Linked DNA regions of Homo sapiens: region 1 is reported to be linked to region 2. Evidence: microRNA targets listed by miRTarBase, many of them from high-throughput screens and not tested one by one. Region 2 holds a microRNA gene; the other region holds the end of a gene's coding sequence.
What was found. Region 2 holds the annotated microRNA hsa-miR-3135a (UGCCUAGGCUGAGACUGCAGUG, at 1,856-1,877, opposite strand). A microRNA usually pairs through its seed, bases 2 to 8, with sites in the 3' UTR of a target mRNA and lowers its output. Matches are read on the target gene's strand: a 7mer-m8 pairs with bases 2 to 8, a 7mer-A1 pairs with bases 2 to 7 and ends in A, and an 8mer does both.

Region 1 (4,390 bases), not on the chromosome of region 2:
TTCTATTTGAAGGGTACAACTAAAGTTGGTCCTCAGGCAACCTCCTGTGAGGTGAGCTTCAATGGTATGGTTCAGTGGAAAGAACACCAGATTGAGTGACTGAAACCTCAGTCCGTCTCATCTCTGCTGCTACTAAGAGAACTTGCGCAGATCTTCTCACTTCTCTACACTGCTCTGATATACCAAATGGGGAGATTGGACCACAGCACTGAAGCTAAGATTTCATGAAACGTATAATCAAATCCTTGAACTCTCAGAGTAATAGCAGAGGTTATCAATGAAAGTGGCTTCCAGTGAATGTTTCAAATACCCAAATGGAAGGAACCAAATTCATGAATACTTCAACTGTTTAAAAATGCTAACATGTGGCTAACATGAGCAAGGTGGCTCAAGTCTGTAATCCCAGCACTTTGGGAGGCCAAGGCGGGCGCATCACCTGAGGTCAGGAGTTCGAGACCAGCCCGACCAACATGGTGAAACCCCGTCTCTACCAAAAATACAAAAATTAGCTGGCTGTGGTGGCATGCACCTGTAATCCCAGCTACTCAGGAGGCTGAGGCAGGAGAATGGCTTGAACCTCGGAGGCGGAGGTTGCAGTAAGCCGAGATCGTGCTACTGCCTCCAGCCTGGCTGACAAGAGACTCCGTCTCAAAAAAAAAAAAATGCTAACATGCACAAAGTGGATCCACGTTATCTTCATAGAAACTATGTTGCATAGCTCAGTAATATTACTTACTTGTAAAATGTAGGCCCCAGAAGAAGCTGGCTTCAAGATCTAAGTATGCTCATCTCTCAATAAGGTGGGTGTTCACTTTTATATAGGATTTTTCGCAACTCAAGAGATCAGTCACGTTGAATCACTAATTTACAATGTATTGTTTTCAAAGTATGTCAAATTCTTTTCACTCTAAGTAGGGCCTGGCCATAATTTTCAAAATGTCTACGTATTAGTAATTTTGCCACAATAAGTAAGATTTAGTTGTGAATGAACACTCCACATCTTCAGTGAATTTTAGTAGAAAATCATCCAACTAAAACCTCCATAAAGATGGAACAGTCTTCAAAGAAATAGACAAATAAGGACTAGGGCCTGCTCAGGTGAAGAACGCTTGAGGGGCCTGAGCCCCAAACAGAATTGCTGCGGAGCCCTGCGCTTCTTTGCTGAAAGCGAAAATATTCCAGTAGTCAGATTTAATGACTTCCCAAAAGGGTTATTAACAACGGATCCAATTCCAACCACTTCTACCCCTTTTGAGAACACTCAAGCATGTGAAGCCAGGGATGGAAGGAAAAAACAGGTCACAGTGCTACTAGTTACCCTTCGAATAGACATTTTTCTTTATTTCAGTATCTGGAATTAAGCTGATTTAACCATACGGGTGGCTTACGGAGGATTTATAACTAGCATTTTAATTCCTTTAGTTTCAAGAAATGCCTACAATGCAAGCCTCATTCTCAAAACAAACAAAAAAACAATCCAAACATACCCTCTGACTCCAGATTAATCTTCAAAATCAATTCTCCTGATCCAAACTTTACAAATGTATAGACAGCAAAAAAACAAAACAAAACAAAACAAAAAAGACCATGTTGTTGACACAAGTAGTAAGGGCTAGATTTTTCTTTTCCCTTTATCTGAATTTTTCTAGCTACCTAATAAATGCATCTTTTTAACCAGAAAATCGAACAGACTAAACAAGTCATATTAAATCTTAATCAGTTATGCTGAAAAAAATGTGGGCCAGGCACGGTAGCTCATGCCTGTAATTCCAGTGTTTTGGGAGGCTTAAGTGGGAGGATTACTTGAGGCCAGGAGTTTCAGACCAGCCTGAGCAACATACTGAGACATGTCTCTACAAAAAAAGAAAAAATTAGCTGGGTATGGTGTCCTGAACCTGTAGTTTTAGCTACTTGGGAAGCTGAGGAGGATCAGTTCACCCCGAGTTTGAGGTTACAGTGAGGTATGATCATGCCACTGCACTCCAGCTTGGCTGACAAAGTGAGAATCTTTCTCTTAAAATAAGCACAGCAAGAAGCTGAAATGAAAAAAAAAAAAAAAAAAGTACTGGGAGGCTGAGGCAGGAGAATCACTTGAACCCGAGAGGCAGAGGTTGCAGTGAGCCAAGATCCTGTCACTGCACTCCTGCCTGGGCTACAGAGTGAAACCCCGTCTCAAAAAAAAAAAGAAAAGAAAAGAAAAGAAAAAAGCCACCAAAATACTCGTTATTTCCGGGTGACTTATGTATTTTCCTAATTTTCTGTAATCTGTAGGTACTGACCTTTACTAAGTGCAAAAATAACCTTTGATAACTGCAGTGGTCACTGAATGGGGAACTTTGTGGCTAGTCACTAGAACCTGGGGAACACTAGAAAGCACCCCTGCTCCTTAGTCCGTATGTGGAGATGTGTGATGCTAGAGATCAAAGATGCCGTCCAGAAGGGAGATAGACTGAAGCTTCCTTCTTCCTAGGTCTCACGCTGGGTGGGACAGGTTCTCCCTGACTGGATTATTTTTCCGGTGTTCTCCCCTAGCTCTGAGCAATACTGGGTGAGTGTCCTATGTTTTGTTCAAGGGAAAAATACCACTTGTCTTCATGGTGCCAATACTTATCCCTGCTCCATGGTCAGCAGAATGGCAGTGGAGGTCTGCTCTTGGGAAAGTCCCTCTATGAACCAGTCTGACCCTGCCCACCAGGCCACAACAGGAGATTGTCTTTCTAGTCTAGTGCTAACCTCTTTTCAGATGTTTCAGAACTGTGACACCTGTTTCCAGAGCAGTGAACAGTGGTGATGTCTAGTATGAATTCAAGTCCCCTGTAAAAACTACCTGATCAAAGAGCAAAATGTTGCTGGTCTTCTCTTATAGTGAGTAGAAGTCAAATGACCCTAAATCATTGTTCCTTAAAGAGTCATAGGCAAAACATCTAACACATCACAATCACGTAAAGGATGCTAGTTAAAAACAACTACTGGACAATCCCAGGCCCAGTAATCTTCATTTAAAGTGCTCTTTAGGCCAGATGGGGGCTCACGCCTCTAATCCCAGCACTGTGGGAGGCCAAGGCAGGTGGATCACTTGAGGTCAGGAGTTCTAAACCAGCCTGGCCAACATGGCGAAACCCTGTCTCTACTAAAAATACAAAAAAAATTAGCTGGGCCTAGTAGTGGGCACCTGTAATCCTAGCTACTCAGGAGGCTGAGGCAGGAGAATCGCTTGAACCCTGGAGGTGGGGCAGAGGTTGCAGTGAGCTGAGATTGTGCCACTGGACTCCAGCCTAGGCAACAGAGCAAGACTCTGTATCAAAAAATAATAGATAATAAATAAATGAAATGCTCTTTAGTCTATGAGTACACCAGTAAGCCTAACAAAGAAGAAAAAAGAACCAGGGATATGCAGATTCTATAACATAAGATTTTAACACCCAAAAATTAAAATCTGTTGTTCTACTGCTGCTTTTATCAGCATCATATTCTCTGCTCAATAAGCTCACTAAGAAAATCACATACTTAGAACATTTTAATGTCTCTCAAGCTGGTGCCTTTCAAGGCCCAAGCTCATCACTTCTTGTTTAATAATATACATAATAAATCTCACATACACATCCTTTCAAACTGGAAACTATGATGTTGATGTTAACAATGGTTCTCAAAAGCTTTTGCTCTTTCCATAAATTTATTAAAATAAAAAACTATGTATATATAAGTAATGGAAATAAAGTCTATCAGCTTTATTAGCTGCAATGATTTGCATTATTTGTAATTATGTATCATAAGTTACATGTAACATATAACAAAAACTTGAGTTTTGAAAAATGTTTTATTCAAGAATTACATAATTTCAAATATCTTCCAAAATACAGTTTCCTAGATTGCTACAAAAGAAATTTGATAAGAAATTTAAATCATTAAATATGTTTCACTAGTATATACATACAGAATGCCAAGCAATAGTATTCAGCCCTGGAATGCGTACCATGTCTTTTGTTTTTCCTCATGAAAGGCTCAACCCAGCATTTTGTATAGGCTATGTACAACAGGCAAAGTTTTGTATTCAAGAATTTGACGTTAGCTGCCTCAATTTATAGCTGTGGTAGTTTGTCCACTGGGGTGTCAAATTTGAAGTCTGTAGGAAACAGATCTGGGGCTCGAGGATAGATCAGTCTATAGGACTGTCTGATTGTAACATCAGCAACACCAGCAATATCTCCAATTTCTAAAAGACAAAAATCGAAACATTAACCATCATTTCCATCCTACCTCCTTTCCACTACCTGCATTGTAATTTGTGAGATATGATAGTATAAAGTGCCAAACTTAAAAACAAAACCAGAAGTGATTTCTAAAAACTGATAATAGAAATACATACTAAAAGGTAGAAAGCGGGAGCTAG
Region 2 (4,403 bases):
TCATTTAAGAACCATAGCTGAGATCTTATGCTTTGCACTACAGTTACAGCTGAGGAAAGCTGATGCTCAAGACCTCAGTGAAACAATCCAATTAAGTTCTCAGTGAGTTTTACCATAAAAGTTAAAATGCATCTCAAACAATGAGAAGATAATAAATAGGAGATTATTTATCTGTCTTCAGAGCACAAAAAGCTTTCTAATTACATAAGAACACATTTTTAAAAAAAAAGAAGTCTGGCTGGGTGCAGTGGCTCATGCCTATAATCTCAGCACTTTGGGAGACTGAGGCAGGAGGATCACTTGAGTCCAAGAGTTCAAGACCAGCCCAGGCAACATAGCAAGATTCTCTCCCAACCCCTCACCATCTCTACAAATGATTAAAAAAAAAAAATTGCTGGGCATGGTGGCATGCACCTGAGGTCACAATTACACAGGTAGCTGAGGCAGGAGGATCGCCTGAGCCCAGGAGGTTGAGGCTGCAGTGAGCTATGATCATGCCACAGCACTCCAGCCTTGGTGACAGTGTAAGACCCTGTCTCAAAACAAACAAACAAACAAAATCCAAACCAAAACAAGTCAATAGATTTTATGTAATAACATCTTTAACATTCTGAAGATTTAAAGAAAAAGCCATAAGCAATGTTGAAACAAATATTATCCAAGGTTAATATAGTTATATACTAATAGTTCTCACAAATCAATGTACAACTAAACATTTTTATAGAAAAAGGGACAAAAGAAAATGAATTAGCAATCCAAAAAAGGAACAAATACAAAGAATTGATAAACATGGAAAAATAAATCAAACTTCACATAAATAAATTCAAACATACACAATTTATTATCTGGAAAAGTGGTAAATTTTTTTTCAGTTACCAACTCCTTTCCTGACCCCCTTATACACTGCTGACAAAAATGGAAATTTTTAAAATATTTAGCAACACATTACAAAAACCTTGATTTATTCTAAGCAAATTACCATCAATGAGGGCAAAACATGTACACAAACACACACCCATACACATGCACATTACCTACAAGAAACACCTAGTCAAAAATGTATTGGTTAAATATTTTCTATTTCTACAACAAAATCCTAGGAAACCACCAAAATTATTATATACACAGTATGAACCAACTTTTATGTTTATATACACACAGAAAAAATACTAAAAAGATTTATGTCAAAGCATTAACAGCATAGGTATGAGCTGAGAGGAAAAATAACAGAAAAAATTTTAAAATAAAAAAATCAAAGCATTAACAGTAAATTTCTTGGGGTGACAGAATTACAAGCCATTTTTCTTTCCTTCTTTTGCTTTATTACATTTTCTACAATGATTACACATTACTTTTATAGTCAGAAAAGTAAATGAAAATGTTTAGGAATTATAAATCACTATTAAAAATAATATGCAGTCAAAGAATAGTCCTCAAAAAGCTGAGCTGAAAACTTATTTTAAGACTTATTTAAAGAGAGACAAGTTCTCACTATGTTGCCCAGGCTGTTTCAAACTCCTGAGCACAGCAATCCTCCTGCCCTGGCCTCCCAAAGTACTAGGATTACAGGCATAAGCCACTGCACCTGGCCTGAGCTGAAAACTTCTGATAAGAAACTGCTAGGACAGAGGCCTGGTGAGGTGGCTCACGCCTATAATCCCAGCACTTAGGGAGGCCGAGGTGGGTGGATTGCTTGAGTCCAGGAGCTCGAGACCAGCCTGGGTAACACGACAAAACCCTGTCTCTACTAAAAATACAAAAAATTAGCTGGGTGTAGTCACAGCTACTTGGGAGGCTGAGGTGGGAGAATCACCTGAGCCCAGGAGGTCAAGGCTGCAGTGAACTGAGATTGCACCACTGCAGTCTCAGCCTAGGCACCAAAGTGAGACCCTGTCTCAAAAAAAAAAAAGGAAGGGAGGAACGGAGAAAGGAAGGAACTGCAAAGATGACAGCCAAGCTCCTAGCCCACTATGTGCTGTAGAATCAGGACTGTTTGCAGGTTTTTATAAACTCCAGGATTTCCTTTCTGCTGTCATAAATGGAGGCCTTCCAGAAACTGAATCTGTTTTTCTCATTCACAGAGAATGCTACCCACCAAATTCCAGGACTGGGAATTTCTTATTAGAAACCATATTTTAGAATGTTAGGATGCAATATTATACCTCACTGACAGGTGACATTCATTCATTCTCTCAACAAATAGTTATTCAATACTTACTATGTGCTAGTGACACTCTCTAATCCAGGCTGAAGCTTATTTTTGACATAAGGCTTGTAAAACAAATGCCTGTTCTTATAAGTAGAAAACACTGGGGGAGAAACTTATTTGGAAGAACGCTACCTGAGAACATATTAAGAAAAGGAGTGACAAAACAGTGTTGCGTGGTGAGAAACCAACCTGTTTCTTAAAGTATCCAATTGCATATTCATCTGCATATGTGAGGAAGTTCAGGATGTCATGCTTTATGTGATATTCTTTCAAATGATTCATCAGGTGTGTTCCATAGCCCTGTGTGGAAGTTAGTATACAAACAAATACATTAGACTGGGGAGAAAAATTTTTACAAATCCATCAGGAAATGATGGTGAATTCAGAAGTTTGTACTTTTACATATTTTACCAACCAGGACCTTTCCTGAATGAAATATATTAACACCCTTTCTTGCGTTTCTTAACTTTGAAAATAAGCTATAAAACCAAAACAAAATCAAAATCCTTGCTTCAAAGATAAAAATCATCATTTGAAAATGTAAGTTTCTAGTTATTTGAAAATAACACACCAGGGCCACAAGTTCCTAGCTCAATCTTAAAGATCACTTGCTGAATAGTAATATAAAAGTTTTCAGAATGAATGTAGATTATGAATTTCTGCTTATCTTTAAGGTATTTGAGAATCTCAGAAGAAAAAAAAAAGATGCAAATGAAAAGTGCTAATCTTCACTAGAATATTTAGTAATCCAAGTGTTTACTGTACACCACAAACTGGCAACCCTTCTAAAGAACTGAATCATCACATACATAGCATTTTAAATTTGGTCTTATCAGACCTTTCCAAGTAAGGTCTGAGAAGCCCAGAATCTCTGAATCAGCCAGAAGACATTAGAAAGTAACTAAAGGTAGTCAACAATGTTGAATAAACTCAGTCATTGAAATATTTTTATAATATCAAGTTTTTTCAGTGACAAAGCTTACAGAAAACGTGTAAATCTAATGTGATTGTTTTGGAACCTCATAAAGAGAGATAAAAGTAAATCCAAGTGTCCAGACCCAAATATCTTCACATAAATTTTCTGCAATTTGGTGGCACATTTTTCTAAAGAACTCAAATATATTCCCAGGTATGATCTCATGGAATCACAGTACCTCAAGGTCAGAAGGATCTTTGGAAGTCATTCTATCTAACCCCCTAATCCATATGAGGCTAGAGGTCTTTTGCCATCTATCATGAAAAGGCAATCTGCTAGAACACCGCCAACGTAGGCCAATTCCTTGGTGGTGAGATAGACCAATTCATTTTCAGGCATCATATAGTTGGGAATTCCTTCCTAACGTTCACCCAAGATCTGGTCATTGTTATTTCTACTTATTGACCTTAGTTCTACTCCTAGAGTTACAAAGACTCATTCCTGCTTTTAACAGCCCTTCAAGCCTTTGAAGATTATGCTCTCTCACACATGCCCATCCGTACTTTCCCAGTCCCAAGCCAAGCACCATCAAGGCTATAGTCATTCCTCATATGGCATGACTGAATGACACCTTATCAAACTAATCACTTTGGTTTTTATTTTTTTTTTTTTGAGATGGAGTCTTGCTCTGTCACCCAGGCTGGAGTGCAGTGGCACGATCTCGGGTCACTGCAAGCTCTGCCTCCCAGGTTAATACCATTCTCCTGCCTCAGCCTCCCGAATAACTGGGACTACAGGTGCCCGCCACCACACCTGGCTAATTTTTTGTATTTTTAGTAGAGACGGGGTTTCACTGTGTTAGCCAGGATAGTCTCGATCTCCTGACCTTGTGATCTGCCCGTCTCGGCCTCCCAAAGTGCTGGGATTACAGGCGTGAGCCACCGCGCCCGGCCACTAATCACTTTTTTCGGAGTTTTTTCTAATATAACAATGCCTTTCTAAAGCATGGATCCTAGGACCAAGCATAATAATAAGGGGACGGTATGTCTAGTAAACAGAACAGTATCATCATCTCCCTCTTCTGCAAATTATTCTTCCATTGATGTCACCCAAAGACATTTTAGCTTTTAACTTTTCCCAAACATATCACAATACTGAACACTGAGAGTTTGAATAAAACTTGGATAAAAACACAAATGAACTATTTCTCTCCTTGAGGAGACGATAGTAAAATGGGGAAGATAAACATATAAACACATGTGTATAGAGGTATACTAT

Region 1: the mRNA of GTF2B is a reported target of hsa-miR-3135a. The part of its 3' UTR that is shown has no 7-base or 8-base seed match.

Annotation. Positions count from the first base shown.
Region 1 is chr1:88,849,134-88,853,523 of GRCh38, forward strand. It overlaps GTF2B (general transcription factor IIB), which reads right to left. Exons shown (of 7, transcript NM_001514.6): 7 at 3,500-4,213. The coding sequence ends at 4,080. Among named protein-coding and RNA genes, the nearest start is that of GTF2B, 40 kb to the right of the region's middle.
Region 2 is chr3:20,135,048-20,139,450 of GRCh38, reverse strand. MIR3135A (microRNA 3135a) reads right to left here and starts at 1,886; the gene lies at 1,810-1,886. It overlaps KAT2B (lysine acetyltransferase 2B), which reads right to left. Exons shown (of 18, transcript NM_003884.5): 12 at 2,399-2,509.